Homo sapiens: one gene and its partners. The protein of the gene in region 1 purifies or fractionates together with the protein of each later gene. This does not show direct contact. Each region holds a gene or a part of one and is shown in the gene's direction. Other genes may lie near its edges. The genes, in order: PRR11, ZNF668, REXO4 and RRP12.

Region 1 (6,499 bases):
CGATCTCCTGACCTTGTGATCCACCTGCCTCGGCCTCCCAAAGTGCTGGGATTACAGGCGTGAGCCACCGGGCCCAGCCTGTTTTTTTAAAATTTATAGACGAAGTCTCACTATATCTCCCAGGCTGGTCTCAAACTCCTGGGCTCAAGTGATCCTCTTGTCTCGGCCTCCCAAAGTGCTGGGATTACAGGCGTGAGCCACCGTCCTCGGCCCACAACTATCTTTTTTTTTTTTAAATTTATTTTTTATTTCAATACGTTTTTGGGGAACAGAAAGTGTTTGGTTACACAAATTAGTTCTTTAGTGGTGATTTCTGAGATTTTGGCACACCCATCACCCAGCCAGTGTACACTGTTCCCAATGTATAGTCTTTTATCCCTCACCCCACCCCACCCTTTCCCCCAAGTCCCCAAAGTCCACTGTATCATTCTTATGCCTTTGCATCCTCATAGCTTAGCTCCCGGACTTATTTTTTTAATTTAAATATTTCTTTGGGCAGTAGGAAGTCCACAACTATAATACAGTGGCTTCACCATATAATCACTGTTCTTCCATCCTTAATGTGTGGCTTTTATCCTCTTAATACAAAATGCCTACATTTCCTGAAGCCTCATGTCCACATTCTAGGCAAGAGAAGGAGAAAGGCAAATGTTAATTAAGCTATGCCTCATTTCTTCAAAGAAGCCCTATCCAGGAACTTCTGATTGCATCAGGGAAACTGGGAAAAGTGGTTTTTACAATCTGAATGCAGTGTTGCCATGCAAAAATTCTGGGTTCTGTTGAGAAAGGAGAGTTGTACTTATCACAGGAATATAATTGATATTATAATTGGGACTTTTTTTTTTTATAGCTGGCTCACCCTAGAAGCCCAACTCCAACTCTGCCACTTTCTACAAGCAGCTTTGATGAACAAAACTGATGCCAACTCTGCCTCACTCCATGAGATGATCCATAACAAATACAGATAAAAACACCCAGCTGGGTGCAGTGGCTCACACCTGTAATCCCAGCACTTTGGGAGGCTGAGGCAGGTGGATCACCTGAGGTCAGGAGTTTGAGACCAGCCTGGCCAACATGGTGAAACTCCTTCCCCACTAAAAATACAGAAATTAGCTGGGCATAGTGGCGGGTGCCTGTAATCCCAGCTATGCGGGAGGCTAAGGCAGGAGAATTGCTTGAACCCAAGAGGCAGAGGTTGCAGTGAGCCAAGATCGCGTCATTGCACTCCAGCCTGAGCAACAAGAGCAAAACAAAAACAAACAAACAAACAAAAAAAACCCACCCAAATCCTTTTTTTTAATGTAGTAGGGTTTATATAGATATACTAATATAATTGCATTTGGAGAATTAGAGTATGTATGGAGCCCACACATACTGTGATATAAAGTGTATATACAGATATTTGGATATTTTCTAGTTTGCATGATGATTAAGAGAACCAGATGGGAAAATACAATCTCCAAAGTGATGTTTATCCTGGAATTACCCAATTTAGATTAGAGAGGTTGTTCAAATTTAACTAGATAACTCTAGTTTGTACTGTATAGGTGCAGTTATGACAGTAAAAAAATAGCCTCTTGGCTCATACCTGTAATCCCACCACTTTGGGAGGCCAAGGTGGGAGGATTGCTTGAGCCCAGGAATTCAAGACTAGCCTGGGCAACATAATACAGGGAGACCCCGTTTCTATTAAAAATACAAAAATCAGCCAGCTGTGGTGACACATGCCTATAGTCCCAGCTACTTAGGAAGCTGAGAAGGGAGGATCACTTGAGGCTGTAGTGCACTATAATTATGCCTGTGAATAGCCACTCTACTCCAGCCTGGGCAACATAGCAAGACCCCATCTCTAAAAATTAAAAAAAAAATTTAAATTAGAATATCATTTCTAGCATCTTAGGTAGGTACTTATATCTGGCTTACAGAAGTCTAAGGTATTCCTTATTTTTATATCTGCTGTCCACATTTATACAGCTACATAAAAATTTTATGACAACTTCAACATGAACCTTATATTTTCGACAATGCCTTGCCAAGGAATCTCTGAAGTCCATAGCAGGTCACTGTGAGACCTAGTTCCCTGTTGTCACTGACCTATGTAATCAAAGACAGTAATACAGCCTGGGAAACATAGCGAGACCCTGTCTCTATCAAAAATTTAAAATTACCCAGGCATGGTGACGCACACCTGTAGTCTAAGTGTCCAAGTTACTTGTGAAGCTGAGGTGGGAGGATCACTTGAGCCCAAGAGTTTGAAGCTATGGTGAGCTATGATTGTTCCACTATACTCCAGCATTGGCAACAGAGCAAGAACTCATCTCTAAAAAGTAAAAAGCAACTCCCCAGAAAGACTGTATTTCTACAGATAAATATTGCATTGAGATGCCAAATAGAGTGTTGTTGTAAAGTCATCAGACTAGAAAGCAGACCTGGGGACAGTGTTTACCACCTAAGAGGCAGTCCTGTTTTTGAGACCCACATCTATATATAGAGATTTTTGTTTGTTTGTTTGTTTGTTTTGTTTTGTTTTGAGATGAAGTCTCACTCTGTCACCCAGGCTGGAGTGCAGTGGCGCAATCTTGGCTCACTGCAACCTCCACCTCCCAGGTTCAAGCAATTCTCCTGCCTCAGCCTCCTGAGTAGCTGGGATTACAGGTGCGCACTGCCACGCCTGACTAATTTTTGTATTTCTAGTAAAGATGGGGTTTCACTATGTTGGCCAGGCTGGTCTTGAACTCCTCACCTCAGGTGATCCACCCATCTCAGCCTCCCAAAGTGCTGAGATTACAGGCGTGAGCCACCACGCCCGGCCAGAGATCCACATCTATATTTATAACACATTTATGGATGAAAATTAAACAGGTGTCCGGGTGCGGTTACTCATGCCTGTAATCCGAGCACTTGTGGAGGCCGAGGCAGGCGGATTACTTGAGGTCAGGACTTCGAAACCAGCCTGGCCAACATGGTGAAATCCCATCTCTACTAAAAATACAAAATTAGCCAGGTGTGGTGTCACGCACCTGTAGTCCCAGTTACTTGAACCTGGGAGGCAGAGGTTGCAGTGAGCCGAGATTGCAACACTGCCACTCCAGCCTGGGTGACAGAGCAAGAGACCCTGTCTCAAAAAAAAAAAAAAAAAATTAAATGGGTAGTGACGTTAAGAGATATATATCAGCTTCTAGTAAAAGTTTTTTTTTTTAAACCTGCTAGCTACATTTACATTATGTAAAAATAAAGGGAATAATCACTGAGAATAAAGCAGTTGAGTATTTATAACAATAATATTTTATGGGGCGCTTATAATGTTTATAATATTGTAAACCACTGTGTACTCTATTCATTTAATGCTAAATGACTTGACCATTCTTGTGGGATAAGAGATCATTAAAAAAATGCTAGGGCCGGGCACCATGGCTCACGCCTGTAATCCCAGGACTTTAGGAGGCCAAGGCAGGTGGATGACTTGAGCTCAGGAGTTTGAGACCAGCCTGGGCAACATGATGAAAACTCCGTCTCTACCAAAAATCAAAAAAATTAGCCAGGTGTGATGTTGTGTGCCTGTAGTCCCAGCTACTTGTGAGGCTGAGGTGGGAGGATGGTTTGGGCCCCGGAGGTAGAGGTTGCAGTGAGCTGAGATTGTGCCACTGTATTCCATCCTGGGCAACAGAGCCAGACCCTGCCTCAAAAAAAAAAAAAAAAAAAAAAAAGGCCTGGCACAGTGGCTCACGCCTGTAATCCCAGCACTTTGGGAGGCTGAGGCGGGCAAAACACTTGAGGTCAGACGTTTGAGACCAGCCTGGCCAACATGGTGAAACCCCGTCTCTACCAAAAATAAAAATAAAAATTATCCAGGCGTGGTGGCATGTGCCTATAGCCCCAGCTACTCAGGAAGCTAAAGCACGAGAATTATGTGCATCCTGGAGGTGAAGGTTGCAGTGAGCCAAGATCACACCACTCCACTCCAGTCTGGACAACAGAGTGAGACCCTGTGTCAAAAAAAAAAAAAAGAAAGAAAGAAAGAAAAAATGCTTTATGGCCCAGTGCAGTGGCTCACACCTATAATCCTAGCACTTTGGGAGGCTAAGGCAGGAGGATTGCTTGAGGCCAAGAGTTCAAAACAAGCCTGGGCAACATTGCAAGACCCCAACTCTACAAAAAACGAAAAATTAGCCGGGAGCGGTGATGTGTGCCTGTAGTCCCAGCTACTCAGGAGACTGAGGTGGGAGAATCACTTGAGCCTGGGAGGTTGAGGCTGCAGTGAGCTGTGTTTATACCACTGCACTCCAGCCTGCTGGGTAACAGAGCAAGACTCCATCTCAAAAAGAAAAGAAAAAATGCTTTGCTACATAATGAGGCCAGGCAAAAAAAAAAAAGTCCTGTGGAAATCATATAGACAAACATTTGCAAAGCTGCTACTGCCATTGTACCAGTGTTAAACTGTGTTCTACCTTGCATCTTTTACTGATTTTTATGACAGATTTTATATTGTAACCATTCGAGAACTCTGTAAGTGCTATGGCTTCCTTAAACTACGATTTATCATATGCTCCCGGTGTTTACTTTGAGACTGAATGGCAACCAGAGAATGTAAACAACCAAGGTGCATCTGGTTATGTTTTAAAATAAAGATTAATAAAAGTTTTGGTTTTTCTCTTTCTAACCTTCTTTTTAAACTAGAAATATAATACCTATAGAAAAGTAAATGTTGGCCGGGTGCGGTGGCTCATGCCTATAATCCCAGCACTTTGGGAGGCCGAGGCAGGCAGATCACCTGAGGTCAAGAGTTCGAGACCAGTCTGGCCAACATGGTGAAACCCTGTCTCTACTAAAAATACAAAAATTAGCCGGGCATAGTGGCAGACACCTGTAATCCCAGCTACTGGGAAGGCTGAGCCAGAATGGCTTGAACCTGGGAGGCAGAGGTTGCAGTGAGCCGAGATCGCCCCATTGCACTCCAGCTTGAGCAACAAGAGCGAAACTGTCTCAAAAAAAAAAAAAAAGTATATGTTAAGTATAGAAAAATATATAAATTAAAAAATTATAGGCTTGGGGGCCAGGCACAGTGGCTCACACCTGTAATCCCAGCACTTTGGGAGGCCGAGGTGGGTGTATCACTTGAGGTCAGGAGTTTGAGACCAGCCTGGCCAACATGGTGAAACCCCGTCTCTACCAAAAAAAATATATAAAAATTATCTGGGTGTGGTGGCATGTGCCTATAGTCTCAGCTTCTCAGAAGACTGAGGCGTGAGAATCACTTGAACGATGGAAGTGGAGGTTGCAGTGAGCTGAGATCACACTACTGCACTACAGTCTGGGCAACAGAGTGAGACCTTGTCTCAAAAAAAAAAGAAAGAAAAAGAAAAATGCTTTATGGCCCAGTGCAGTGGCTCACACCTATAATCCTAGCACTTTGGGAGGCTAAGGCAGGAGGTTCGCTTGAGGCCAAGAGTTCAAAACAAGCCTGGGCAACACTGCAAGACCCCAACTCTACAAAAAACGAAAAATTAGCCGGGAGCGGTGATGTGTGCCTGTAGTCCCAGCTACTCAGGAGACTGAGGTGGAAGAATCACTTGAGCCCGGGAGGTTGAGGCTGCAGTGAGCTGTGTTTATACCACTGCACTCCAGCCTGCTGGGTAACAGAGCAAGACTCCATCTCAAAAAGAAAAGAAAAAATGCTTTGCTACATAATGAGGCCAGGCAAAAAAAAAAAGTCCTGTGGAAATCATATAGACAAACATTTGCAAAGCTGCTACTGCCATTGTACCAGTGTTAAAATGTGTTCTACCTTGCATCTTTTACTGATTTTTATGACAGATTTTATATTGTAACCATTTGAGAACTCTGTAAGTGCTATGGCTTCCTTAAACTACGATTTATCATATGCTCCCAGTGTTTACTTTGAGACTGAATGGCAACCAGAGAATGTAAACAACCAAGGTGCATCTGGTTATGTTTTAAAATAAAGATTAATAAAAGTTTTGGTTTTTCTCTTTCTAACCTTCTTTTTAAACTAGAAATATAATACCTATAGAAAAGTAAATGTTGGCCGGGTGCGGTGGCTCATGCCTATAATCCCAGCACTTTGGGAGGCCGAGGCAGGCAGATCACCTGAGGTCAAGAGTTCGAGACCAGTCTGGCCAACATGGTGAAACCCTGTCTCTACTAAAAATACAAAAATTAGCCGGGCATAGTGGCAGACACCTGTAATCCCAGCTACTGGGAAGGCTGAGCCAGAATGGCTTGAACCTGGGAGGCAAAGGTTGCAGTGAGCCGAGATCGCCCCATTGTACTCCAGCTTGAGCAACAAGAGCGAAACTGTCTCAAAAAAAAAAAAAGTATATGTTAAGTATAGAAAAATATATAAATTAAAAAATTATAGGCTTGGGGGCCAGGCACAGTGGCTCACACCTGTAATCCCAGCACTTTGGGAGGCTGAGGTGGGAGGATCACTTGAGGCCAAGAGTTTGAAACCAGTATGGGCAACATTGCAAGACCCTGT
Region 2 (3,929 bases), on another chromosome or scaffold:
GAGGAAGCCAGTGGGGAGAAGGTGTCAGGCTCCGCGGCCAAGCCTAGGCCCTATGCGTGTCCGCTATGCCCCAAGGCCTACAAGACGGCACCCGAGCTGCGCAGCCACGGGCGCAGCCACACGGGGGAGAAGCCCTTTCCGTGCCCCGAGTGCGGCCGCCGCTTCATGCAGCCCGTGTGCCTGCGCGTGCACCTGGCCTCGCACGCTGGCGAACTGCCCTTCCGCTGTGCGCACTGCCCGAAGGCCTATGGCGCGCTCTCCAAGCTCAAGATCCACCAGCGTGGCCACACAGGCGAGCGGCCTTACGCCTGCGCCGACTGCGGCAAGAGCTTTGCTGACCCTTCAGTGTTCCGCAAGCACCGGCGTACTCACGCTGGCCTGCGGCCCTACAGCTGTGAGCGTTGCGGCAAAGCCTATGCGGAGCTCAAGGACCTCCGCAACCATGAGCGGTGAGGGTGCCTTCCGGGGCAGGGCGCCTTCCGGGGCAGGGCGACAGCGTTGCTGCAGCCAATGGGGCCTGGGTTTGAGTCTCAGGGTAAAGTGAGCCAATGGGAAGGTGGGCATGGCAGATCCAAGGGGAGGGGCTAGGCATGTGGGAGAAATTGGTGCCCCTGATTGGGCAGAGGTGGCAACCACCTTGAGGTTGATCTCTGAGAATGGGATTGGGTCAGATTGGCCTCCGTTGTAGGCCAGCTGGAAAGGGGGCGGGGTTTGGAGTTGGGCAGTTCTGAGGGTCTTTTGTGGAGACCAGGAGGTGTGAGTGGGGCCTGGTTTGTCTAGGTCATTTTTTTTTTTCTTTTTCTCAGCCTCTACATTAATGACATGTTTCTAGGCTGGGCACAATAGCTCACGCCTATAATTCCAGCACTTTGGGAGGCTGAGGCAGGAGGATTGCTTGAGCCCAAGAGTTCAAGACCAGCCTGGGCAACACAGCAAGCCTCGTCTCTATAAAAATAAAAAAATTACCCGAGCGTGGGGATGTACACTTCTAGTCCCGGGTACTTGGGAGGATAAGGTGGGAGGATGGCCTGAGCCTGGGAGGTCGAGGCTGCAGTGAGCTATGGTCAGGCCACTGCATTCCAGCCTGGGGAACAGGAAAAAAAAGGCGGAGGACACGTATCTTGGTTTTCTGTTTTGTTTTGTTTTGTTTTTGTTTGTTTGTTTTTTGAGACGGAGTTTTGATCTTGTTGCCCAGGCTAGAGTGCAATGGCGCGATCTCGGCTCACCGCAACCTCCGCCTCCCGGGTTCAAGCGATTCTCCTGCCTCAGCCTTCCGAGTAGCTGGGATTACAGGCATGCGCCACCATGCCCGGCTAATTTTGTATTTTTAGTAGAGACGGGGTTTCTCCGTTTTGGTCACACTGGTCTTGAACTCCTGACCTCAGGTGATCCGCCCGCCTCGGCCTCCCAAAGTGCTGGGATTACAGGCGTGAGCCACCGCGCCTGGCCATGTCTTGGTCTTTTTTTTTTTTCTTTTTCTTTTTTTTTTTTTTTTTTTGAGACGGAGTCTCGCTCTGCCGCCCAGGCTGGAGTGCAGTGGCAAGATCTCGGCTCACTGCAAGCTCCGCCTCCCGGGTTCACGCCATTCTCCTGCCTCAGCCTCCCGAGTAGCTGGGACTACATGCACCCACCACCACGCCTGGCTAATTTTTTATAGTTTTAGTAGAGACGGGGTTTCACCGTGTTAGCCGGGATGGTCTCGATCTCCTGACCTCGGCCTCCCAAAGTGCTGGAATTACAGGCGTGAGCCACCGCGCCCGGCCCATATCTTGGTCTTTAATGTGCAGAGACAGGTCTTTGGAATAGAGACACCCAGCCAGCCTGAAGGCTTCTTCCTCTGGGGTGCAGCCATGTGGCTCTTAGGGGATTAAGCCTAGGCCCCCACGAACGTTTGGGGAGCCCCTAAAGTACAGCCCAGACAGGCAGTGGGGTCACGTTATGGGTCTGTCGCCTTCATGCCAAGTCCTCCACACCCCCGCAGGTCCCACACCGGCGAGCGCCCCTTCCTCTGCTCCGAGTGCGGGAAGAGCTTCTCCCGCTCATCCTCGCTCACGTGCCACCAGCGCATCCACGCGGCACAGAAGCCCTACCGCTGCCCGGCCTGCGGCAAGGGCTTCACGCAGCTCAGTTCCTACCAGAGCCACGAGCGCACGCACTCGGGGGAGAAGCCCTTCCTGTGCCCGCGCTGCGGCCGCATGTTCTCCGACCCCTCGAGCTTCCGTCGCCACCAGCGCGCCCATGAAGGGGTGAAGCCATACCACTGCGAGAAGTGCGGCAAGGACTTCCGGCAGCCGGCGGACCTGGCCATGCACCGGCGTGTGCACACAGGCGACCGGCCGTTCAAGTGCCTGCAATGTGACAAGACGTTCGTGGCGTCCTGGGACCTCAAGCGGCACGCGCTGGTGCACTCTGGCCAGCGGCCCTTCCGCTGTGAGGAGTGCGGGCGAGCCTTCGCCGAGCGTGCCAGCCTCACGAAGCATAGCCGGGTGCACTCGGGGGAGCGCCCCTTCCACTGTAACGCATGTGGGAAATCCTTTGTGGTGTCGTCGAGCCTGAGGAAGCACGAGCGGACCCATCGAAGCAGTGAGGCCGCGGGTGTGCCCCCTGCACAGGAGCTGGTGGTGGGGTTGGCGCTGCCTGTGGGCGTGGCAGGTGAGAGTTCAGCCGCCCCGGCAGCAGGGGCGGGGCTGGGGGACCCTCCAGCAGGGCTGCTAGGGCTGCCCCCGGAGTCAGGTGGTGTGATGGCCACACAGTGGCAGGTGGTGGGCATGACGGTGGAGCATGTGGAATGCCAAGATGCTGGTGTCCGGGAGGCTCCTGGTCCCTTGGAAGGGGCAGGCGAGGCGGGGGGTGAGGAGGCTGACGAGAAGCCCCCCCAGTTTGTGTGCCGAGAGTGCAAGGAGACCTTCTCCACAATGACGCTGCTGCGTCGGCACGAGCGCTCACACCCGGAGCTCCGGCCCTTCCCCTGCACCCAGTGCGGCAAGAGCTTCTCTGACCGGGCTGGGCTGCGCAAACACAGCCGCACTCACAGCTCAGTGCGCCCCTACACCTGCCCCCATTGTCCCAAGGCCTTCTTGAGTGCCAGCGACTTGCGCAAGCATGAACGCACCCACCCTGTGCCCATGGGGACCCCCACACCCCTGGAGCCCCTGGTGGCTTTGCTAGGAATGCCTGAAGAGGGGCCGGCCTGAAGCCCATGACCCCCCAGCACCACACTCCGGGAGCCCAGCCCCCATCGGGGGCTTCCTGTACCTCCTTTTGCCTGGCTCTGCTCTTTAGACTCCAGATCCCTACCCCTCAGCAACTAGCTCCCCTGTCGGCCAGCTAAGAGAGCTGGGACAGTGGAGGCTGGCAGAAGCTGAGACGTGACTGTCTAGGAGTAACACTCATTAAAGCTTTCATTTTGGCACCAGGTCATCTTCTGTGTTCTGGTTGGGAGTGAATGGGTGGGAGTTTGGGCATCAGGTAAGGTTCAGTGGAGACCCCTGGATCCACAGATTTGAAACTAGAAGGGTCTTTGGATGCAGTTTCCCAAAGTATGTTTCAGGATGTCTAGTGACAAAAGGTTTCATGGGCAGGTAAGAAAGGAAATTCCCTGTGCCCTTCTTGGGATTCTTGGTGATCAAAACTTGGTGATCAAAAGTGGGCTGGGGTGGCCCTGGAGGAGCAGTCCCTCTGGCAGCTGAAGCTGGCATCTCCAGGCCCACTGCCCCTTTGTTGTGAGGGCCTGGGACTTAGGAATCTGCCCACAAAAGGGGTATTGTTCATTAAAATCTACCCATTTCTTCATAGAATATACGTCTTCAATTGCCTGGTGGTGGTGGCTCACACCTGTAATCCCAGCACTTTGGGAGGCTGAGGCAGGCAGATCACCTGAGGTCAACAGTTCTGAGACCAGCCTAGTCAACATGGTGAAACCCTGTCTC
Region 3 (7,284 bases), on another chromosome or scaffold:
CTGCTGCAAGCTGGGCCTTGCTCTAAGATGGTTGCAGTTCAGGGTAACCTGCAGCCCAGTCCTGCACACCAGACAGCTCTCCGGATGTGCACGCCCACCCCCTTAGAGGAGGCCTAAGCCATCTAATCTGGAGAAGGGACACTGGACCAGAAACCCACAGACGGGGGTTCACAAGGAATGCCAGGACCTCGGCTGACTCCCTCTCCGGGGTCCCCGCTCCCATCTGACAGATGAGAGGCTGTGCCAAAGACATCGTGGTTCTGGCTCAACTCTCCACCTACTCTGTGCCTGCGCCTGATGAGGAGAGTCGCAGAAGCAGGCTGCACGGCACCAGATCTCAGCATCATCACAAACGGCCTGGCAATCCCCTTCATCTCCTGGAAGACTCACTTCACATGCTCCAAACCACTCTTTTACACCCACAGAGCCGCACAAGCTGATGACCAGCAGGGGGATTCACCTTGTCTTTCCACCCCTCAAAGTGCAGCCTCTCTCCTCCTCTGCGATCAGGGAGGACACACCTACACTTCCTGCCAGGCCCTGGCTCTGGATCCCTTCCCAGCTCTCTCCTCCTGCATCGTTAGTTTCTGCCCCTCTGCTAGAGCCATTCATTCATTCCTTCAGCCAACAAATGTTTCACTGAGCCCCTGAAACAGGCCAGGCTCTGTGCTAGACACCAGGAAAGCAGCCCCAAGCCAGGCAGACAGCAGCCTCGGCCTCTCACAGCTTAAATTCTAGGGAAGAGAGCCAGACAGCAAAGTTGCTAGACAGACACATGTTGTATATGTAGTATGTTCAAAGGTGGTAAGTGTTATGGAGAAAAATACAGCAGAATAAAGGAATGGGGGACTGGAGGGAAGGGTGTGCTTTCATGCAGGAAGGTAAGGAGGCTGTTGGAGAAGGGGGCATGCTTAGATATCGAGATCCTGGTACCTGGCTCACTCCATCAGCATGAATGACTCTCCTGTCTCTTTTTGGTTTTTGTTTGTTTTTTGAGACAGAGTCTTGCTGTGTCACCCAGGCTGGAGTGCAGTGGCACGATCTCGGCTCACTGCAACCTCCGCCACCCAGGTTCAAGTGATTCTCCTGCCTCAGCCTCCCTTGTGGCTGGGATTACAGGCACCCGCCATCACGCCTGGCTAGTTTTTGTATTTTTAGTAGAGGTGGGGTTTCGCCATGTTGGCCAAGCTGGTCTCAAACTCCTGACCTCAGGTGAGCTGACTGCCTCGGCCTCCCAAAGTGCTGGGATTACAGGCATGAGCCACCAAGCCCAGACACTCTGGTGTCTCTTGATTACAATCAACAACCTTCCCTTGACCCACACTGTCCTCCTGCCATAGCCCTGTTTCTGGCTGTCTTTAAGAACTTAGAAACATTATTTTCAGTGGCTATCTCCACTTCCTTGCCTTCAATTCCCACATACCATTGAAATTGATCTTTAAAAGGTCACCAATAACTTTGTGAACCCTGAAAGAGCCAATCCTTCTTGATGGATCCCAAGTTACTAACTGGGCCTAAATTCAAAGTAGGACCTAGCAGCCATTTGCTGACTAGGGTCACACACACATTCTGCGTTCCTGGAAAGCCCCCACTCTCACTTAACTCTGGGATGGTTTCACAGCTATCTGTTCCTGTTTATGCCGCCAGAATCAACCCATCGACTGTGACCTGCATCGACCAATCTGAACTCAGCAAGTATTAACCAATCAGAACTAAGCAAGTGTGCCTTCCTCATTTGCATAAGTGGACCAAAGTGGGAACCTGGGCAGGAAGTTCTCTACAAAAGACGACCTCTTTCTTTGTTCTCTTTGTTCCCTGGAATGCACCTTTGTACAGAAGGCTGCATTGCCCTGGTTTACAAACTGCTGGAACAAAGTTTTTTTCCTTTTTTAAAAAGAAAACCTGGGCCAGGTGTGGTGGCTCACGCCTTTAATCCCAGCACTTTGGGAGGCCGAGGCAGGTGGATCACGAGGCACGCGGATCATGAGGTCAGGAGTTCGAGATCAGCCTGGCCAGCATAGTGAAACCCCGTCTCTTTTCAAAAATACAAAAATTAGGCTAGGTGCGGTGGCTCACGCCTGTAATCCCAACACTTTGGGAGGCTGAGGCGAGAGGATCACCTGATGTCTGGAGATCCATACCAGCCTGGCCAACATGGAGAAACCCCATCTCTACTAAAAGTACAAAATTAGCCGGGCGTGGTGGCACATGCCTGTAATCCCAGCTACTCGGGAGGCTGAGGCAGAAGAATCACTTGAACCCGGGAGGTGGAGGTTGCGGTGAGCCGAGATTGCGCCATTGCACTCCAGCCTGGGCGACAAGAGCATAACTTCGTCTCAAAAAAAAAAAAAAAATTAGCTGGGCATGGTGGCGTGCACCTGTAGTTCCAGCTACCCAGGAGGCTGAGGCAGGAGAATCGCTTGAACCCGGGAGGTGGAGATTGTGGTGAGCCGATATCACGCCACTGCACTCCAGCCTGGGCAGCAGAGCAAGACTCCGTCTCAAAACAAACAAAAAAAAAGAAAACCCTTTTCGGTGGACTTGCTGACAATCTCAGTGCCATATCTGGTTCCCATCTCTCTGTCCTCGTCCTTCTCAGCCTCTCAGCAGCATCTGATGTGGTTTATTCTCCCCCTGGATTCTCTGATGCCACTCACATCCGCTTCTCCTCCCACTGCACTGACTGCTCCCCCTCAGCCTCCTCTGCTGCTTCGCCCCTGGAGAGCCCCCAGCACCTGCTATCTGGTCTTAACCCTTCACTCCCTATATTGGTACTCTCTCTTTGGATGAACTAACCCAGGTTCATGTTTCAACACTAATTATGTGCTGACGATTTCCAAATTACATCTCCAGCACTGACCCTTCCCTAAGCTTAGGAATCTTATATCCTGCTGCTGATTAGACGTCTCTCCTTGGTGACTGACGGCCCGTTCAAACTCAGCAAGTGTGAAAAGGAGCTCATGGCTCCACCCCCATACTTCACCCTGCTCCCCGCAGACATTTATTGAGATGATAAATGGCCACACCCAATTGCTCAGACCAAAATCCTAGGAGCCTCACTTCCCTGTTACTCCATCAACCTCTGCCTGTTACACACGCACATCAAATCTACCCACTCCCGGCCGGGCACGGTGGCTCACACCTGTAATCCCAGCGCTTTGGGAGGCCGAGGCGGATGGATCACTGGAGGTCAGGAGTTCAAGACAGCCTGGCCAACGTGGCGAAACCCCAGGTCTACTAAAAATACAAAAATTGGCAGAGAGTGGTGGCGTGCACCTATAGTCCCAGCTACTCAGGAGGCTGAGGCAGGAGAATCGCTTGAACCCAGGCGGCAGAAGTAAGGGAGGAGACCACCCCTCATATTGTCTTATGCCCAATTTCTGCTTCCAAATAAAGAAGTAAAAACTAAAAGGCAGAAATAAAATCCACAGGCAGACAGCCCGGCGCCGCGCCCTGGGCCTGGTTAAAGATCAATCCTTGACCTAACCGGTTATGTTATCTATAGATTTCAGACATTGTATGGAAAAGCATTGTGAAAATCCCTGTCCTGTTCTGTTGCGTTCTGATTACCGGTGCATGCAGCCCCCAGTCACGTACCCCCTGCTTGCTCAATCGATCACGACCCTCTCACACAGACCCCCTTAGGGTTGTAAGCCCTTAAAAGGGACAGGAATTGCTCACTCAGAGAGCTCGGTTTTTGGAGACGTGAGTCTGCCGATGCTCCCCACTAAATAAAGCCCTTTCCTTCTACAATTCGGTGTCTGAGGGGTTCTTGTCTGCGGCTCGTCCTGCTACAGAGTGAACTGGCAGGAACTCCTCCCGGTGCCTGGGCCTCAGTTTCCCCACTGTACGTGGAAGATGAGCCGCTGTGAGGCTGAGCAAGGAGCAGCCCAAGGCGGGAAAGGCTCGAGAGTCCAGGACGCAGGCGAGCGACCTAGCCCGGCTCTCACTAGCCCCACCGCCCAGTGCCCCCAGCTCAGCTGCCCTACCAGGTGCTACACACACAGCGGCCCCCCAGTTCCCTTCCGGCGTTCGCATCTCTCATCCCCATCCCGGATCTTGGGGAGGTCCTCGGCTTGCCCCAGTCAAACTCGAGGTCGATGACCCCGGATGCCGCTGGCTAAGGCGGCGGCCCAAGTCCCGTGCGGGTGAACCGCCCAGGCTGCGCGGAACCAGAGGCAGGGATCCGGTTTCCAGCCGGTTGTGGAGAGACGAGCGCTTCCGGGGACTGGAGCGTGCGTGCTGAGGTATGCGCAACGCGTGCGGGGTCTCTTCCGGAGTCTTTTCCTGGACGGGGTCCCTGCGGTGGGTGTGTTTCGGCCTGGCCTGGGCAGGCGCTTGTGCTGCCAGGGCGCCGGGCCCGGGGAGGCCGGGGTCTCGGGTGGCCGCCGGCCCAGGCGCTGGACGGCAGCAGGATGGGGAAGGCGAAGGTCCCCGCCTCCAAGCGCGCCCCGAGCAGCCCCGTGGCTAAGCCGGGTCCTGTCAAGACGCTCACTCGGAAGAAAAACAAGAAGAAAAAAAGGTTTTGGAAAAGCAAGGCGCGGGAAGTAAGCAAGAAGCCAGCAAGCGGCCCCGGTGCTGTGGTGCGACCTCCAAAGGCACCAGAAGACTTTTCTCAAAACTGGAAGGCGCTGCAAGAGGTGAGGCTTGAGGGGGCCCGGGCGGAGCGCTGCGCAGCTCATTCCCGCAGAACGCGACGGAGGGAAAGACTTGGGTAGCCCCAAAAGACCTGTAAAGGCAGATTTGAATCGAAATCTTGTAAACAGCTTTTCACAAGAAAGGTGGCCTGTTGAGGGAGGTCTCGAACTTGTTTGCTTGAAAGAAATTGATGAAAGAATTATTTCAAGTACAAAAAAGCAAAGATAAACCCTTGTACCTTTTGCATAATGAACTAACTAGAATGGATTTTACAAAGAGAAATTTAGCTTAAAATCCCGAAACCAGGCCGGGCGCGGGGCCTCACGCCTGTGATCCCAGCACTTTGGGAGGCCGAGGCGGGCAGATCCCCTGAGGTCAAGAGTTCAAGACCAGCCCGGCCAACATGGTGAAACCCCGTGTCTACTAAAAAAGTACAAAAAATATTAGCCGGGCGTGATGGCGCGCGCCGGTAGTCGCAGCTACTCGGGGAGCCTGAGGCAGAAGAATCGCTTGAACCCGGGAGGCAGAGGCAGTAGTAAGCCGAAATCGCGCCACTGCACTCCAGCCTGGGCGACAGAGCGAGACTCCATCTCAAACAACAACAACGAAAGAACACACTGGTCTGTGTAGCAAGACAGGGAGAAAGAAGATTCCTGTGTAGAAGTGAAAAGCAGATAGCAGACATGTGATGGGGTTCTAGCGACACTTACGGTCTTGAAGTAAATACTAATTGAGCTCCTAAAAATGTGCACTCTGCCATGTGCTCTATGCCATGCGTGTTGCAATCCCCACAATAAGACTGTGAGGTGGACACTTCCATCATCGCTATTGTACAGATGAGGAAATAGGCTGGAAAAGTTTAAATAGATCATCTAAGATTGCGGCTGGGAACCAGGTGGCTGACTCTGGAGTCCATGCTTTTAAGGCTGTGTTGTACCTGCTGTCTCCCTAGTGACCTGCACTTCTGTAGAGGTTGCCTGCTCTCTCCTAGACACTCTTCCACGTGCGTCACTCATACATTCTTACCACATCCCTTGGAGCTCCCTTGGAGCTACCTCCTGTTAGGATCATAGCTCACTGCTGCCTGGGCTCCAGTGATTCTCCTGCCTCAGCCTCCCGAGTAGCCCACACGTGTAATCCCAGCACTTTGGGAGGCCCAGGCAGGAGGATCACTTGAGCTCAGGAGTTCAAGTCCAGCCTGGGCAACATGGTGAGATTCCATCTCTAAATAAAAGTAAAAAGTAGTTTTTTTAAAAAAGAAATGTGATCCCCAGTGGTGGAGATGGGGCCCATAGGAGGTATTGGGTCATGGGGGTAGATCCCTCATGAATGACTTGGTGCCCTCCCCTCAGTAACGAGTAAGTTCTCACTCTGCTGGTTCATTTGAGAGCTGGTTGTTTAAAAAGAGCCTAGCACCTTTTTTGCTTGCTCTCTCACCACGCAACACACCTGCTCCCCCTTCACCTTACACCATGATGGGAAGCTTCCTTCGGCCTCACCAGAAGCAGATGCTGGCACCATGCTTCTTGTACAACCTGCAAAACCATGAGCTACATAAACGTTTTTTCTTTATAAATTACCAAACACAGGTATTCCTTTATAGCAGTGCACAATGAACTAATACAGATGGGGTTTCACTTTGTTGCCCAGGCTGGTCTTCAACTCCTGACCTCAAGCAATCCTCCCACCTCAGCCTCCCCGAGCGCTTCTTGAACCTCCTAATACTCTGCACAGTATCTCAGTGCAGACATTCCTGTCTTAACACACAGGACCAGTCAAATTCCCGTGGGCAGCCCCAGGGTTCTGTGGGATTTCTTGAACACCAACTCTTCTTCCTTCTCCCAAGAAAGAAAAGCAAAATAAGTGAATGGAAGGGATGTGTGCTATAGGGAAACTTTGGAGTGTTTTCTAATTCATCCAAGAAAGTCAGCCCTTCAGTTCTTTACCTATCACAGAACAGGTAAGTAGCACCCGCCTCATCATCGCACTGTGGTGGCGCCCACTCCCACTGGGGATTTGAACACAGGGAGGAAGCTGGGCTCTAAGACTACAGGAGCCTCTGCTTGGGTGACAGCCAAGGTGTGTGGCTGCTAGCAGTTCTTCAGCCACTCCAGTTTGACAGAAGCTTTTCTTTTCATTTATGACACCCCCCACCTTCCTGAGATCTTCACAGCAGTAGCAAACCAGGGAATCTTGTAAAAAAAAAAAAAGCGATTTCTGTGTAGCAGGATGTTGGCCCAAGCTGTGAGGGAAGTTAACTCCAAAATTCTTTCTAGATAAGCTGAAAAGGGAAGTGGTCTGTGGTGTCCAGCCACTCAACAGGTACCCAAGGTGTAGAATGAGTTTGACATTTTGTATGCATGAAGGAGCAGGTGCAAAATGCATTATAATAAGATAAGCAAAGAAACAGCATTTCACCACAAGTGACCCATGAGAATGAAAAAGAGCTTTTTCCAAACCGTTTGAAAATGAATTTCAGTGATGCGGATGGGAATTGTATAGATGTGTTTGGTGTATATGTGTGTATATACATACACACGTAAGTTTTTTCAATCTGCTGTGTGTAATTTCCAAATTCAAATGCAGCATGTATTTTATTTTGGGTCCCAGTGGCTGCTGAAACAAAAATCTCAGGCCCCAGAAAAG
Region 4 (7,035 bases), on another chromosome or scaffold:
CAGGAATTCAACCTCTTTGCCACCATTACCCCTGTTGACCTGGCAGTGCTGCCTGCCAGGATGGAAACAGCCTCTCAGCTGCCCCACCTGAACCAACAAGGGTGAAGTGGGCCCAACCCATCACCCAACACCTGTCAGTCTCAAGCTCAGTGGAACATTTCCATTCTGGAGCAGTTTCTTCCCTCTCTGCCCTTCCAGACTATGCCCCAGCCCATCCAGCCTTCCTGGGCACCACCCGTAGGTGACAGAGCCTACATCAGGGTATAGTGATATCGGTGGGGAAGCGGCAGACTCTGGGGTCCCATCTTGGCTTCAGCCTAACCTTTTAAAGCCTCAATTCCTGATCTGTAAAGTGGGGTTATAAATAGACCACCTGGTGGAGTCATTGGGACAGTTTGGTAAGATTGGGCGTGTAAAGTGCATTAGCATAGTGCCTGAAGTGTTACAGACTTCCCCCACATCCCCGTTTTCATTGGCGTCATGTTTGTCAATGTCTGCCCATATGCCTTGCCAAGTGTCCATCTGCCCAGTGTGGCCCGAGGAGGAGTTTGTTATTAGAGCATTGTGACAGCGCAGAATTCTGTTTGAAGAGCTGAGTACATATCCAGAGTCTTGGGTCAGAGAGTAGCTGAGGACCTGAGCAGCCTCTGATGCGGGAAGCCCCTCTGGGATGCCCTTGAGGAAAAGCAGTGGGGCTTCTGCTGAAAACCCTCCTGCCCCTCTCTGCGCCCAGGCAACCACTCCTGTGGGACAGCTTCACCTACTGGGAGTCCTTCCTCTGCTTGGTCTGACATGGGCCCCTCCGAGAGGCCACCCTCAGGCCAGTCTAGTCTCCCTCTCCAGGTGATGGCAGTCGTCTGCCAAACGTGTGTCTGGGCCCAGACTGCCTGGGCTCAAGTCTTTGTTTCTGTGTACAGTGCTTGCCACTTAGTGATGCAAAGTAAGCCATTGTGACTTGATTATTCACTTTTCCTGGAAATCTTTTTCCATTCAAAGCCTCCTGGGTTCCTTAAGCACATCTTCACATGTGGCTTTGCAGATCCTCGGCAGCCTACTCCTCTCCCTGGCCGGGGAGAACCGACCACGGCTTTCTAAGGATGTCCCCCACTGCCCCGGGCAGAGCGGGACTGAGCAGATGCCTTGTCTCCAGGCACTGAGAGGGCCCCAGGGCAGTTGCATTCTGTGGCTGGCTCCTGCCACTGAGACCCCCAGAGGGTTTCTTGCATGGCACTTAGTTCTAACTCTTTTTTTTTTTTTTTTTTTGAGATGAAGTCTCACTTTTTCGCCAGGCTGGAGTGTAGTGGCGCAATCTCGGCTCACTGCAACCTCCCCCTCCCAGGTTCAAGTGATTCTCCTGCCTCAGCCTCCTGAGTAGCTGGGATTACAGGTGCATGCTACCACGCCCAGCTAATTTTTGTATTTTTAGTGGAGATGGGGTTTCATCATGTTGGTCAGGCTGGTCTCGAACTCCTGACCTCGTGATCCACCCACCTCAGCCTCCCAAAGTGCCAGGATTACAGGCGTGAGCCACCGGGCCCGGCCAAGTTCTAACTCCTCGGCCAACCATTGTGGAAGCATGAAGTGCTGGGGTTCAAGTAGCTGCCTCCATTCAGGGCCAGCAGGCTGGGCTGTTGGCCAAGCACCAGCTGAACCAAGAGCCAGCTCAGCCATCATCCCCTACATTGCAGTCGGAGTCAGCTTCCTCCCGGTTCCTGTTTCTCCACTAGGAGCCCACTCAGCTGGGCTTCGGCCAGTGGACCTGGAGTCCCCCGTCTCCCAGGCACACCCTGTGTGTGCTGCAGCCTGTTCGCTCTGCCCAGGCCGATCCCTTTACCTGGCATACCTTTCCCCTGGTTGGCCTCTGGATCCCCTGGGTAGCTGGAGCCCTGGGAATCTGCAGTTTCTAGAGGTTTCTGGGGCACAGTGGCACAGACCACAGTGCAGGGACCAGCCTTGCCAGCTGGGGCCACCTCTGTTTGCCTGCCCTCCCTGCACAGCACGCCTCTGCCTGGCCTGGTTGTTGGTTCTAGGCTCACATCTGATGGGCTGGGGCCGCTGTCGGGCTCTCCCTCCTTCCCTTGGACTGCCTAACACAGTGCCAGGCGCACAGTAGGTGCTCTGTCACTTCCTGTTGAATATAATTGACGAGCTGACGTGTCTTACTGTCCATGATCATACCTGCTGGGATGGTAGCATTGTTGAGGATCAGTGATGACTGGCTTGAGCAGGGGTCTCCCACCCGCCTGAGAGCCCGTGGAGCACAGGAACTAGATCTTGTGCCCTGTGTCCCCAGGGCCTGGCACTTAGTAGGGGATCAGTAAGTGAGTGATTAATAGGGAGAGTGGGGTGGGGTTTGTGTGAAGCAAAGAACTGGTAAAGCTATTCTCTCTGAAGAGGCCAGGGACCTCATTTTCCCCATTAGGAAGGCTGGGTAAGCTGATGTCAGAAGCCCTCTGGGCAATTGCAGGCCTGGGTGGGGCCCAGAGTGGAAAGGAAGAGCAGGAACGGCCGCCACCAGCCCGGCAGTCAGGACATGGCCAGAGCTTCTCTTCTGCACTGCCTGGCTTTGTGATCTTGGACAGTTCCTTGCCCTCTCTGGGCCTTAGTTTCCCCATCTGTAAGTGAGAGGTGGGGTGCTTAGCAGAGGGCCTCTCCTGCTTGATGCAGGGTACTCTGCTGTTACTGTTGGCATTCCCGAGGGTGGGCACATCCCCTGGTTCACTCACTACCCACCTATTCTCTCTCTATAGAAAAAGCACCAGAAGCTCAAGCACCAGAAAGAGGCTGAGGAGGAGGAGCTGGAGATACCCCCTCAGTACCAAGGTGAGGCTTCCACTCCTCTCTCCTGGGACACATGGATCCCTGTCACCTGCATTAGGGAGGGGAGTCACAGGAAGGGGTGGCAGGGCCATGAGGGTGCACAGCCTGGTTGCACTCACTTGGCACCAACAGAGGTTGGCTGATATGACACTCAAGATGGGCCTGGAGTCTAAGGGGCCCTGGGGGTGTGAGAGAGCCTATGGGTTAGGAGATCTGTGCATGGAACCACCAGCCTTCTGAGGAGCCCTGAGCCACAGCTCCTTCCCACCCGCCCAGGCCTCCCAAGAGGCTTGAGTCTGTCCCTTCTGCGAGCTGCTTGCCTCTCTTGGTCACCCTAAGAGCACCAACCGAGTCAGGCTGGGTTTAGAGAAGCCACTTGGCCGGTGCCAGGGCTGGGAACTGGGAAGGTTGGTATTGGGTCTGGCCAGAGGGTTCCCCTCTATTTCTATCTCTGGGCCCACCAGCTGTTGCCCTCCTAGAGCAGCTGCTAGAAGTGCCAAGGTGGCTTCACCTCTGCTTCCTTCCTCCCAGGGTAGCCTTGCAGGACCCCTGCCCCCAAGCCCTTGCAGCAGAGCCCTTGCTTTGCATCTGGAGGTCCAGGGGCTCCTGTGGGAAGCCTCTGATTCCAGTAGCTGGTGTGTCCTCAGCCCTAGAGCATCATAACGCAGCTGCACAACCTCATGGCTCTTCCGCCTGTGGCACCCATGAGCCAGGGCCAGCTCACCTACTGTGCCCTGGGATGGAGTGATGCTGAGGCAGGAGTACCTGCCAATTGATGAGGCAGAGACCTGGGGTCAGGGCTGCTTGCCCAACCTCTGCTTAGCTGTTTGACCTTGGCCTGGTTACACTGTCTGTCTCTGAGCTTCTAGTTTCTCATCTGCAAAAACATGAGGAATGGGGGTGGTTCGTGTTGGTCGTCTCAGAGAGTCCTCCTGAGCTGGCATGGTAGGATTCCATCCACAACTTGTCGTTGAATGTTGAAGTCCAGGCTGGAGAAGACAGCTGACCTTGGGCAAGGATCTTGATCTCTCTAAGCCACAGTGTTCACATCTGTTACAATGGGTTAAATAGCTACCTGCTATCTCAGTGTTTGTGTGAAACCCAAATGAGATAAGAAGGGAAAGCCTAAAATGGCTTCTCTTACAGATGAGGTTAAGAGGCTTGCCTGAGGTTGGAGCTGTAAGTGGCAGAGCTGGGAGTTGAACCTGGCTGGCTGGCTGGCTGAATTCTGTCTGACTTTGGAGAATATGGGTTATTTTTTGTTAGTGTGTTAGCGGAGAATATATGTGTTCCCAGAGGTCTCTGGTAAGCTGTAAGGCTTCTGGGTCAGTCTGAGGAGCCCAGTGATCTAACTGTCAAATCACCAGACAGTCCCTCCTCGAGGAAGGTCTTTGTCCTGGTTTGATAGGGGACAGAGCCAAGTTCCTGGCCTTCACTCATCTGCTCCCTTGCAGCTCTCTCAGAGAGGGTGCCCATTGCCTTTCTGGAGGGGGCTGCCCTGGCTTTGCCTGACTCATGGTCCTGTGTTCTCCCCGTAGCTGGAGGCTCTGGCATTCATCGCCCTGTGGCCAAGAAGGCTATGCCTGGGGCTGAATACAAGGCCAAGGTAAGTGCTGCATGTAGGGCATGGGGTCTCCTGGCACTGGACAGGTGCCAGGGAGGGGCAAGGAGGAGCTGTGCCCATCACTGTCCTGAGAGGCACCTTCCTGGAACTCAACTGAGGCCAGGAAAGAAGAAGGGGTTCAGATGCTAAGACCTTGTGGCATCTGAAATGGGGGACCTTATTGAATGGCCTTCCAAGGATACAGGAGCTCTTTGGCACCACCTAAGGCAGAGGATGAAGGGAGGTTATGGGGCCTGTCAAGTCTAGGGCAGGGACAGAAGGGGAACCCCACCCTCCTAGCTGACTCTGTTTCTCTGGGCAAGCAGAAAGCAAAAGGTGATGTGAAGAAGAAAGGCCGGCCGGATCCCTATGCCTACATCCCCCTCAACAGAAGCAAGCTCAACCGCAGGTATGACGCTGTGCCAGGCAGGCTGGGGGCTGGAGGATGGGTGGGGATGAGGGAGCAGAGTGCTCTAAAGAAGGGAAGGCCTTATTAAACTCTCAGCTCAATTTGAGTCTCTTCCAGCTTTTTTTTTTAACATGCACCTATATCATGTAGCTGGTACCTACCTGTATTACTGACTTGAACTGCTTCTTTATTTTTTTATTTTTTTGAGACAGAGTCTTGCTCTGTCGCCAGGCTGGAGTGCAGTGGTGCGATCTTGGCTCACTGCAATCTCTGCCTCCCAGGTTCAAGCTAGTCTTCTGCCTCAGCCTCCCGAGTAGCTAGGACTACAGGCGCGTGCCACCATGCCCAGCTAATTTTTGTATTTTTAGTAGAGATGGGGTTTCACCGCGTTGGCTGGGATGGTCTCGATCTCTTGACCTCATGATCTGCATGCCTCAGCCTCCCAAAGTGCTGGGATCACAAGCACGAGCCACCGTGCCCCGCCCTGAACTGCTTCTTTAAACATGATATTATGTCATACAGATGTTTTCTGGTATTTACATACTCTACATAGTCATCTTTTTTTTTTTTTTTTGAGACGGAGTCTCGCTGTGTCACCCATGCTGGAGTGAGTGCAGTGGCACGATCTCGGCTTACTGCAAGCTCTGCCTCCCGGGTTCACGCCATACTCCTGCCTCAGCCTCCGGAGTAGCTGGGACTACAGGCACCCGCCACCACACCCGGCTAATTTTTTTGTATTTTTAGTAGAGACGGGGTTTCACTGTGTTACCCAGGATGGTCTTGATCCCCTGACCTTGTGATCTGCCCACCTCGGCCTCCCAAAGTGCTGGGATTACAGGCATGAGCCACCACGCCCAGCCATAGTCATCATTTTTAATAGCTTTGTATAATTTGCTTTTCTAATCCCTTTATTGGTAGGAAATTAGAGTTGTTTCCGACTTTGGCCCTTAAATTGGGTTATGTGTAGGACTGCTTTGGAAACTAATGTTACTAGGGAAATGGTGTTGTAAAGTTCTAGCTTCTGCGGGTTGTAAGTTACCTTTCAATGGAGGGATGGGTGGGCAGAGGGAGCTTTGACCTTCTCTGGACATACATTAGAGGAAAAATGGAAGGGAGGCCTGTTTCCAGGGGGATAATTGTGCCAAAGTGGAATGTCCAGGTCAGGACATGAGCCGTGTGGAAGCTGGAACCACGTGAGGTCTGCCTAGTTCATGTGCTGGCCACCACCTGGAGGCCCCCTTCTCATCCCTGCTGGCGCTGGGGGTGAGCCATCATTTGGCAACAGGAGGGGGCCTCCTATTCTCAGCCAGATGTGACCCTTCCGTTCCTTGGCCCTGCAGGAAGAAGATGAAGCTGCAGGGACAGTTCAAAGGCCTGGTGAAGGCTGCCCGGCGAGGTTCCCAGGTGGGACACAAAAACCGCAGAAAGGATCGTCGACCCTGAGGCCCAGGGCCCCTGGGCTGCCCTGTGGTCCAGTCTGAGGCCCTTTCAGCCCCCAGGCTGCCTTGCCACCAGCTCCAGGTGCTCAAGATTCTGGCAGAGCCTGGACTCAGGATGACTTGGAACTAGGGCTTGGCTCTCAGAAGTCCTGGATTTTGGAAACTCCAAATGGAATCACCCTTCAGAGACATCCCTGGTGCCTGGAGATGGGAATGTGGCCTCAGTGCCTCTGAGTAGGTGCCATGAGGCACCTTTGCTTTCTGCCCAGAGTGGCCATGAGCACCAGAACAGATGATCTCCATTTCCGCCAGCTGCCTGTAGCCACGTGGCATCCTGCCTGTGGTCTGGGTGAGATTTACTGTGACCAGATGTAGAATAAATGTGTCTCATCCTGCATTTTTTTTCTAGAAACTGTTTCATAGTCTGCCCCCTCCAGGGGTAAGAACAGTGTGCAGTTGTTGGCAGCAGTGGCCTGACCTCTTCCTGTCTAACTCCTTACATCCAGTCCAGGGCATATCATAAGGCTTTGCCCATAGGACAGGCTTTGGAACTTGCCCGGGAGCACCCACCTGTGTCAGGAGGGGCAGCGAATGCCCCAGGGCTGGTGTCGGGAGCTGCAGTTCAGCACCAGGGACTGCCCCAGCTGTCCTGGGCACAAGTCTCTCCAGCATCTTTGTTCATTGATTCAACAAAGTATTTGCTGAGCCCCTCTAAGTGCCCAGCATAGCCTTGTTCATTCACCTCCGTGTCTTCCCACATTCTT

Evidence for each region.
Region 2: the proteins of PRR11 (region 1) and ZNF668 purify together in Homo sapiens (affinity purification with mass spectrometry; 3 studies listed by BioGRID and IntAct, with this or other methods). This does not show direct contact.
Region 3: the proteins of PRR11 (region 1) and REXO4 purify together in Homo sapiens (affinity purification with mass spectrometry; 3 studies listed by BioGRID and IntAct, with this or other methods). This does not show direct contact.
Region 4: the proteins of PRR11 (region 1) and RRP12 purify together in Homo sapiens (affinity purification with mass spectrometry; 3 studies listed by BioGRID and IntAct, with this or other methods). This does not show direct contact.

Annotation. Positions count from the first base shown.
Region 1 is NC_000017.11:59,200,713-59,207,211, forward strand, and holds the end of PRR11 (proline-rich protein 11), read left to right. Parts: intron 1-850; coding exon 851-919; 3' UTR 920-5,997; downstream 5,998-6,499. UniProt on the Homo sapiens protein: Plays a critical role in cell cycle progression.
Region 2 is NC_000016.10:31,060,333-31,064,261, reverse strand, and holds the end of ZNF668 (zinc finger protein 668), read left to right. Parts: coding exon 1-449; intron 450-1,981; coding exon 1,982-3,194; 3' UTR 3,195-3,415; downstream 3,416-3,929. UniProt on the Homo sapiens protein: May be involved in transcriptional regulation. May play a role in DNA repair process.
Region 3 is NC_000009.12:133,414,976-133,422,259, reverse strand, and holds the start of REXO4 (RNA exonuclease 4), read left to right. Parts: upstream 1-4,249; 5' UTR 4,250-4,415; coding exon 4,416-4,640; exon of another isoform or gene 4,641-6,598; intron 6,599-7,248; coding exon 7,249-7,284.
Region 4 is NC_000010.11:97,356,334-97,363,368, reverse strand, and holds the end of RRP12 (RRP12-like protein), read left to right. Parts: intron 1-2,750; coding exon 2,751-2,823; intron 2,824-4,358; coding exon 4,359-4,426; intron 4,427-4,749; coding exon 4,750-4,832; intron 4,833-6,172; coding exon 6,173-6,275; 3' UTR 6,276-6,668; downstream 6,669-7,035.